Linked DNA regions of Homo sapiens. The protein of the gene in region 1 purifies or fractionates together with the protein of each later gene. This does not show direct contact. Each region holds a gene or a part of one and is shown in the gene's direction. Other genes may lie near its edges. The genes, in order: NRROS and LAPTM4B.

What was found.
Region 2: the proteins of NRROS (region 1) and LAPTM4B purify together in Homo sapiens (affinity purification with mass spectrometry; one large-scale study listed by BioGRID and IntAct). This does not show direct contact.

Annotation. Positions count from the first base shown.
Region 1 is NC_000003.12:196,649,590-196,653,407, forward strand, and holds part of NRROS (transforming growth factor beta activator LRRC33 precursor), read left to right. Parts: intron 1-3,818. UniProt on the Homo sapiens protein: Key regulator of transforming growth factor beta-1 (TGFB1) specifically required for microglia function in the nervous system.
Region 2 is NC_000008.11:97,782,058-97,785,875, forward strand, and holds part of LAPTM4B (lysosomal-associated transmembrane protein 4B), read left to right. Parts: intron 1-3,818. UniProt on the Homo sapiens protein: Required for optimal lysosomal function. Blocks EGF-stimulated EGFR intraluminal sorting and degradation.

The DNA of each region.
Region 1 (3,818 bases):
GCCTCCCGAGTAGCTGGGACTACAGGCGCCCGCCACCGCGCCCGGCTAATTTTTTGTATTTTTAGTAGAGACGGGGTTTCACTGTGTTAGCCAGGATGGTCTCGATCTCCTGACCTCGTGATCACCCGCCTCGGCCTCCCAAAGTGCTGGGATTACAGGCGTGAGCCACTGCGCCCGGCCAAAATATTTGTTTCTAGCACAGAGTGCCCCGAGAGCTGCCCACTTTCTCCAGGAGACCTCTTTCCGTAAAGCTTTTTCAGCTTCTCTGATTACTTTGAGGAGAAAATTCTTAACTACGTGGTAACATACGTATGGCACTTGCTCAGAGCCCCTTTAGCGGAGAGGGTCCGGTCCCAGCTCTGGCAGCAGCTGCTCACGTAGTAGCAGTCAGGGGAGGTGGGGGTGGGGACGGTAAGGTGTCCGAGCAGCTCCAACAAGGAGAGGCCGTCACTCTGGCCGGGATAACAATTCAGATATCCAGCGTGCACCTGAATAGTAGAAATCCAGCATCCTTTTCTAAAAACAAAACAATAGCAAAATTCAGATCTGAGCTACTCTGTAGCATTTCTTTTTTTAGAGACAGAGTCTCGCTCTGCTGCCCAGGTTGGAGTGCAATAGCGAGATCTCTGCTCACTGCAGCCTCCACCTCCCAGGTTCGATTGTCCTGCCTCAGCCTCCCGAGTAGCTGGGATTACAGGCATCCGCCACCACGCCCAGCTAATTTTTGTATTTTTAGTAGAGACAGGGTTTCACCAGGTTGGCCAGGCTGGTCTCAAACTCCTGACCTCAGGTGATCCACCTGCCTCGGCCTCCCAAAGTGCTGGGATTACAGGAGTGAGCCACTGCGCCCGGCCATTTTTGTATTTTTTTTAGAGAGGCAGGGTTTTGCCACCTTGCTCAGGCTGGTCTCGAACTCCTGAGACCCAGTGACCCCCCACTCCTTGGCCTCCCAAAGTGCTGGGATTACAGGCGTAAGCCACCGCACCTGTTCGCAACAAACATAATTTCTAAAACAAAGGAGACTCTTTGCAGCGGCTGTACGTTCTTCTTCCTCACTGTCAGCATTCTCTTGTTGCAGAATACAACCTCCATTCATGTTGTTTTTATGAATGAATCTTTTTACCACTTTCTTACTATGACCAGGTCTGGAGGCAGAAAACCACGTTGTCTTCTCTGCCTAAAAAGCAACACCACATCTTCATAGACAAGGTTGGCTATGGAGTAGACTCACAGCATTCCATGATAACTAGTTAGAATGCAGCAGTGTTCCAAATGGGCCAAACCTTGTCCAGACAGGAGCAACAGGCAGCTCAGGGTCCCAGGAACACTCACCAGCTGGCAGCCCCTCGGGAAGCGGCTGGGCTTTCCACCTGTTCCTGCATGCTGGGCACACTCTGGCTTAGATGCCCTCTTACAGCTGCAGATGCTGTGGCGTGGTCCTCAGCCCTGAGGATGTGGGAGGAGAGGAAGCAGTCCTGTGCATGCAGGGGATGAGTCACGGGATTTTGCAGAGAGATATGGCAAGAGGATTGTTTATCTTGGACTCTTTGCAGTGCCATGGCTCTGAGGAAGCTCTCTGCAGCTACACACTCTACGAAGAGTGTTTCTCAACCTCAATGGTCACTATTTTGAAAGCCTTTTATTTCTTTACAGTCATTACATACTTTTAATTTAGCACTGGGTCTTGGCCATTCTCACATGATTGTATTAGTCAGGGTCCAACCAGGAAACGGAAACTGCCCAGATTATTTAAGACAGAGGATATTTAATGCAAGAAAGTGGCAACACATGGTGGAAAAGGCTGAGAAAGCAAATAAACAGTCAACACAGCGACGAGCAGCTTCAGGAAGCTTCTTATCCTCACCTAGGTAGGGTGAGGACAAGAGGAGAAGGTGGGCCAGGCACCATGACTCACGCCTGTAATCCCATCACTTTGGGAGGTCAAGGCGGGCAGATCACCTGAGGTCATGAGATTGAGACCAGCCTGGCCAACATGGTGGAACCTCATCTCTACTAAAAATACAAAAATTAGCCAGGCGTGGTGGCGTGCACCTGTAATCCCAGCTACTTGGGAGGCTGAGGCAGGAGAATTGTTGAACCCGGGAGGTGGAGTTTGCAGTGAGGCGAGATCACAACATTGTACTCCAACCTGGGCAACAAGAGCAAAACTCCGTCTCAAAAAACAAAACAAAACGAACAAAAACAAAGAGGAGGAGGTGGTGTCACCAGAGCCTAGGGGTCAGCGGAAGAAACTCTAGGATGTCTCTGTCCAAGGCAGAGAGGAAGGGAGAGAAGTATGCTGGATTCTTTCTGCCCTCTACTGTCTGACCTCCCAGGAGGAGTGTCTTCCATTGACTAAACCAGCAGAGTTTGTGACAGGTGACAGCAGTTTGAGGCCAGGTGACAGCAGAGTTTGAGATTCAGAACCTTCAGAAGTCAGAGCCCTGCCACACTGAGGAGGGCAGGGAAGGGGAAGGCGCAGCTCTGGGGACAAACCGCTGTCAGCCAGCATAGTCATCTGTGCTCAGGGCTAGCCTTGCTCTGCAATTTATGAATGCAGAGTTTTTAATTGAACCTTCCTGCATATGTTTTACATATCTAGTTGGTATAATTCATCCTTCCAGCCACATTACTCAGGCCTTTATTTTAGACTTTGTGTAGCTGTTGAACTACCTTGGAGATTACACAGGAATAACCAGCACTCAGTCAACTCACTGGTGTTTGGAACTCACAAGTAATAATTAATAATTGTGTTACTTGCTACCTTTACAGCCATGAAGCCCTTTCACATTCATGAGACTGGTTATTCTCATGCAACTCTGGAATAGTTATTATTACTCCCATTTTGTAGACGGATTCTCTGAGTCTTGGAGACTTTGTCTGAATTCCTAAAGGACAAATAACAAATAACAGAGGCAGAATTCAAACTCTGGTCTGCTTGGTTCCAAATTCCATGATCTTCCCATGATATCCTGCTGCTTCCTGCCAGGGCCACAACAAGAGTTTTTTTCTGGGCTGGTTGGCTGAGTTTAGGAGGAAGGAGAGGATATGTTTTAAACTTGCAAAATTCTTGATGACCCATAAATTAAAATGCCCCTCCTGAGTGTGACACAAGGCCTGGCTTGCCTTCCAGTCTGAAGGTTGCCTTTTCGCTGAGGGACCTGCACTCTTGCCCCTTACACGTCTAGATTCAGTTCTTCGATACGCAGGGCTGGCTCTTCCAGAGAGACTGGAGTCACAGCAGCAGGTACCACCCCACACCTGACAAGAGGTGGCCAGGGAGGAAGGGAGGGTTCTTACCTCCCCATCTCCCCTCAGTAAAATTCAGGATGCCCAGTGAAGTTTGAATGTCAGATAAACAATTTGTTAGTATAAGGATGTATCTAGCATTGAAATGATGCCTTGTAATTTACTAAATCTGCAACTATGCAGCCTTATTTCATGGCGGGCAGTGGTGGTGATCCCAGGTTTCAGGGGCGGGGAAGGGTGCTGGGGGGATCCTGAGGTCAGGAACCCGTACACCTCTGCTTCTGCCCTCTCTTCCCTGTGCCGGCCACAAGGCAATGACTCCTGTGTGGGTGCAGAGGCAGAAATGGGTCTGGAAGGGGATTCCCAGTGTCTGGCAAGTTCTGGTAAATTCTGCATTGGAGGTTCTCTCTGTAGTAAGGGGAGTTGGCCTGGCCTGAAGTGAAAGCTGGCTTACCCGGTTTCATTGAGCTCTTCAATTAGTCTGTTTGCACTGGTGAGCATTCAAATCTGATCAAGAAGGTAAAATGAGCTTTCAAGATCCCTAAATGCATTTGAAGAAAGGAAAGAGG
Region 2 (3,818 bases), on another chromosome or scaffold:
GCAACCTCCGACTCCCAGGTTCAAGCAATTCTCCTGCCTCAGCCTCCCTAGTAGCTGGGATTACAGGCATGCGCCACCACACCTGTTTAATTTTGTATTTTTAGTAGATAACAGGATTTCTCCATGTTGGTCAGGCTGGTCTCGAACTCCCGACCTCTGGTGATCTGCTCCCCTCAGCCTCCCAAAGTGCTGGGATTACAGGCCTGAGCCACCATGCCCAGCTTTTTTTTTTTTTTTTTTTTTTTTTTTGTGACAAGATCTCACTCTATTGCCCAGGCTGGAGTGGCTCAATGCAGCCTTGTCTTCCCTGGCTCAAGCAGCCTTGCCATTTCAGCCTCCCAAGTAGCTGGGACTACAGGCTCACACCACCACTCCACACCACTCCAGGCTTTTGTTTTTGAGACAGAGCCTCACTCTGTTGTCCAGGCTGGAGTGCAGTGGCGCAGTCTCAGCTCACTGCAACGTCTGCCTCCCGGGTTCAAGCGATTCTCCTGCCTCAGTCTCCTGAGTAGCTGGTACTACAGGCATGCGCCACCATCCCTGGCTAATTTTTTATTTTTGGTAGAGACGGGGTTTCACCATGTTGGTCAGGCTTGTCTCGAACTCCTGACCTCCTGATCCACCTGCTTCGGCCTCCCAAAGTGCTGGGATTACGGGCGTGAGCCACCGTCCCCAGCCTTTTTTTTTTTCTGAGACGGAGTCTCGCTCTTGTTGCCCAGGCTGGAGTGCAGTGGTGCAGTCTCGGCTCACTGCAGCCTCCGCCTCTTGGGTTCAAGTGATTCTCCTGCTTCAGCCTCCAAAGTAGCTGGGATTGCAGGCATGCACCACCATACCTGGCTAATTTTGTATTTTATTTATTTATTTATTTATTTATTTATTTATTTATTTATTTTTTAGTAGAGACGGGGTTTCTCCATGTTAGTCAAGCTGGTCTCAAACTCCCGACCTCAGGTGATCTGCCCGCCTTGGCCTCCCAAAGTGTTGGGATTACAAGTGTGAGCCACCGCGCCCGGCCTTTTTTTTTTTTTTTTTTTAAATATCCTTGTTCAGTTATTTTTTAGGAACTTAGACACAGCAAATACATACCAAATGCCTCTGTGCCAGACACTGTTCACAGGGTAGTTAGCCATATATCAGATTATAAAGGATAAAAGAGGTCAGAGTAGCTGCTTCATTGGCTTTATGACCTGGTCTTTCTTTTTAATTTTCTTTCTTTCTTTTTCTTTTGTTTTTTAATTATACTTTAAGTTCTGGGATACAAGTGCAGACCTGGTCTTTCAAAGAATCCACTTGTTCACATAGAAACTCACAGTTTCCTTGTTTACTCAAGTAAAGGAAACCAGAATATCTCACCCAAAATATACCTCTTTGGTATATTTCAAGATAGTATTAGAGAAACTGCAAACAAGAATAGCTCTGAAAAGCTGCTGTTTGTGGAGATTTGCATCTTTAGGGAAAATCTGCATTAGTGAAATAAACAGCCAGGCTTTCTCTGAGCACACCTCCCCACCCCATCCCCCATGTTCAGACCTTGGAAAGATTAACCGAGAGATTGAGAGTCTGACACCTTTGAAGGTCTAATAGAGAAGTTTACCACATACCACAGGCTACCAAGTATCTTTTCTCAAGCCTTCTACCTGTGGGGTCTCATTTGCATAACAAGACCACCTTCCCTAGCCAGGCCTTTCCGTCCCTCCCTCCCATAACCTGTTTTGCCGTGATCTAAACCCCTATTCTTTCTGTAACTTCAGAAAGACATTAAAACTTAAACCATCTGGCCCTTCCTTTGAGTTTTCTTATTTCTGTGACTCCCACGTATGCGTGTGCACGTAATACATTTGTATGCCGTTTCTTGCTGTTGATCTATTATCAGTTTGTTTATTAGACTCAAATGATCAAACCTTCAGAAGTTGTAGAAGGGGGAGAATTTTCTTCACCCCTTCACAAGCCTGATAGATTTTCTTTGTATTCTGAGAAGTTCAACAACTATTGATTTGTCTGAGTACAGGATAGTAAGACCAACATCCTGTATTTGTAGAGTGATTGATAGCTTTCGGTGGGCATTCACATTTGTTCTTATTTAGACCTCAAAGCAACCCTGGGTCACGCATGATAGGTGGTGATATGTTCTTTTAAGATTAATAGCTTCTTTCCAACTGTCAGATTCTGTGACTTGGCCCGTAATTTCAGGATAGAATAACGGACTGATTTGTGGCAATTGTGTCATCTTTATTGCCTGGTGTTTTCCCCACTATGTTAGATTGTAAAAGACTAAATAGTAGGCTAAAGAGTTTGGATTTTATTCTGTAGGCAGTGGGGAACCATTGAAGAATTATGAACAGGAGCGATATGATGAAAGCAGTTTTTTTTGGTTGTTGTTTTTGTTTTGTTTTGTTTTTTGAGACGGAGTCTCGCTCTGTCACCCAGGCTGGAGTGCAGTGGTGGGATCTCCACTCACTGCAAGCTCTGCCTCCCGGGTTCAAGCCATTCTCCTGCCTCAGCCTCTCGAGTAGCTGGGACTACAGGCGCCCACCACCACACCCCGCTGATTTTTTTATTTTTAATAGAGATGAGGTTTCAACGTGGTAGCCAGGATGATCTCAATCTCCTGACTTCGTGATCTGCCCACCTCAGCCTCCCAAAGTGTTGGGATTACAGGCATGAGCCACCACGCCTGGCCAATGAAAGCAGTTTTTAAGTTAGATTAAAATGGCAGGCTGTTTCAGATGGCTGGAAAACCAGGCAGTATGTTATATATAGCTCTCTAGATACAAACTATAGTGGGTATCAGCTCTTAGTGGTATGAATAAGATGGATAGGAATTTTTACCAGTTAGTGAGTGATACAAGTCTCTCTTTCTACCTAGGTTTTCTCCATCTGATTTAAGGAATTGAACAGATTTAGATAGGGAAGGACATTGGATTTTTAAAGTACAGGTTTCCCCTCATCTAATAAAGGATCAAGGGCAGTTCTATAGAACATTGGTTGGTGGAGATTTCAGTGGTATTCAATATCTTTTTAAGCTTTTATCACACTTTTTTTTTTTTTGAGGCAGTTTCATTCTGTCACCCATGATGGAGTGCAGTGGTGCCATCTCGGTTCCCTGCAACCTCCACCTCCCGGGTTCAAGCCCTTCTCTTGCCTCAGCCTCCCGAGTACATGGGATTACAGGCGCAGGCCACCACGCCTGGCTTAATTTAGTAGAGATGGGGTTTCACCATGTTGACCAGGCTGGTCTAGAACTCTTGACCTCAGGTGATCCGCCCGCCTCCCAAAGTGCTGGGATTGCAGGCCTGAGCCTCTTATCACACTTTTATGGTAAATGTTCATTAGAATGTTTTACAGACAAGGTGGCCAATAAATAAAGATTGCTATCAAAACTGTTTATTAATACCAATCACTCTCGGATTCACTTTAAATATATTTAACTTCGACCTAAAAGGAAGAAGCTGAGGCAAAATTAATGTAAGTAGAGAGTTTATTTGGGCCAGGCTTGAGGATTGCAACCCCAGAATATAGACTGACGTTGCCCTGACTGTACACACAGATTAGCAGCAGTTATAAGTGCATTTTTAAAGACTGAAAGGGGGAACAGGGAGTGTACTGATACAAAGTTGTTTGTCAGGAATTGTCCTTGATTTACAGAAACAACATTGGTTCGTGATTGGCTATCCATTGTTGAGCTATGCATTATTAGGTTAATTTGCAGCTGCTTGTGGCAATAGCAATCAGTTTCAACAGTTGAAGACATAGCTCAAAAGGGAGGGGGAGTAGAAAGTGATTGCTGTATCGTTTTAATGTCTCTCTGGGCCTGATAA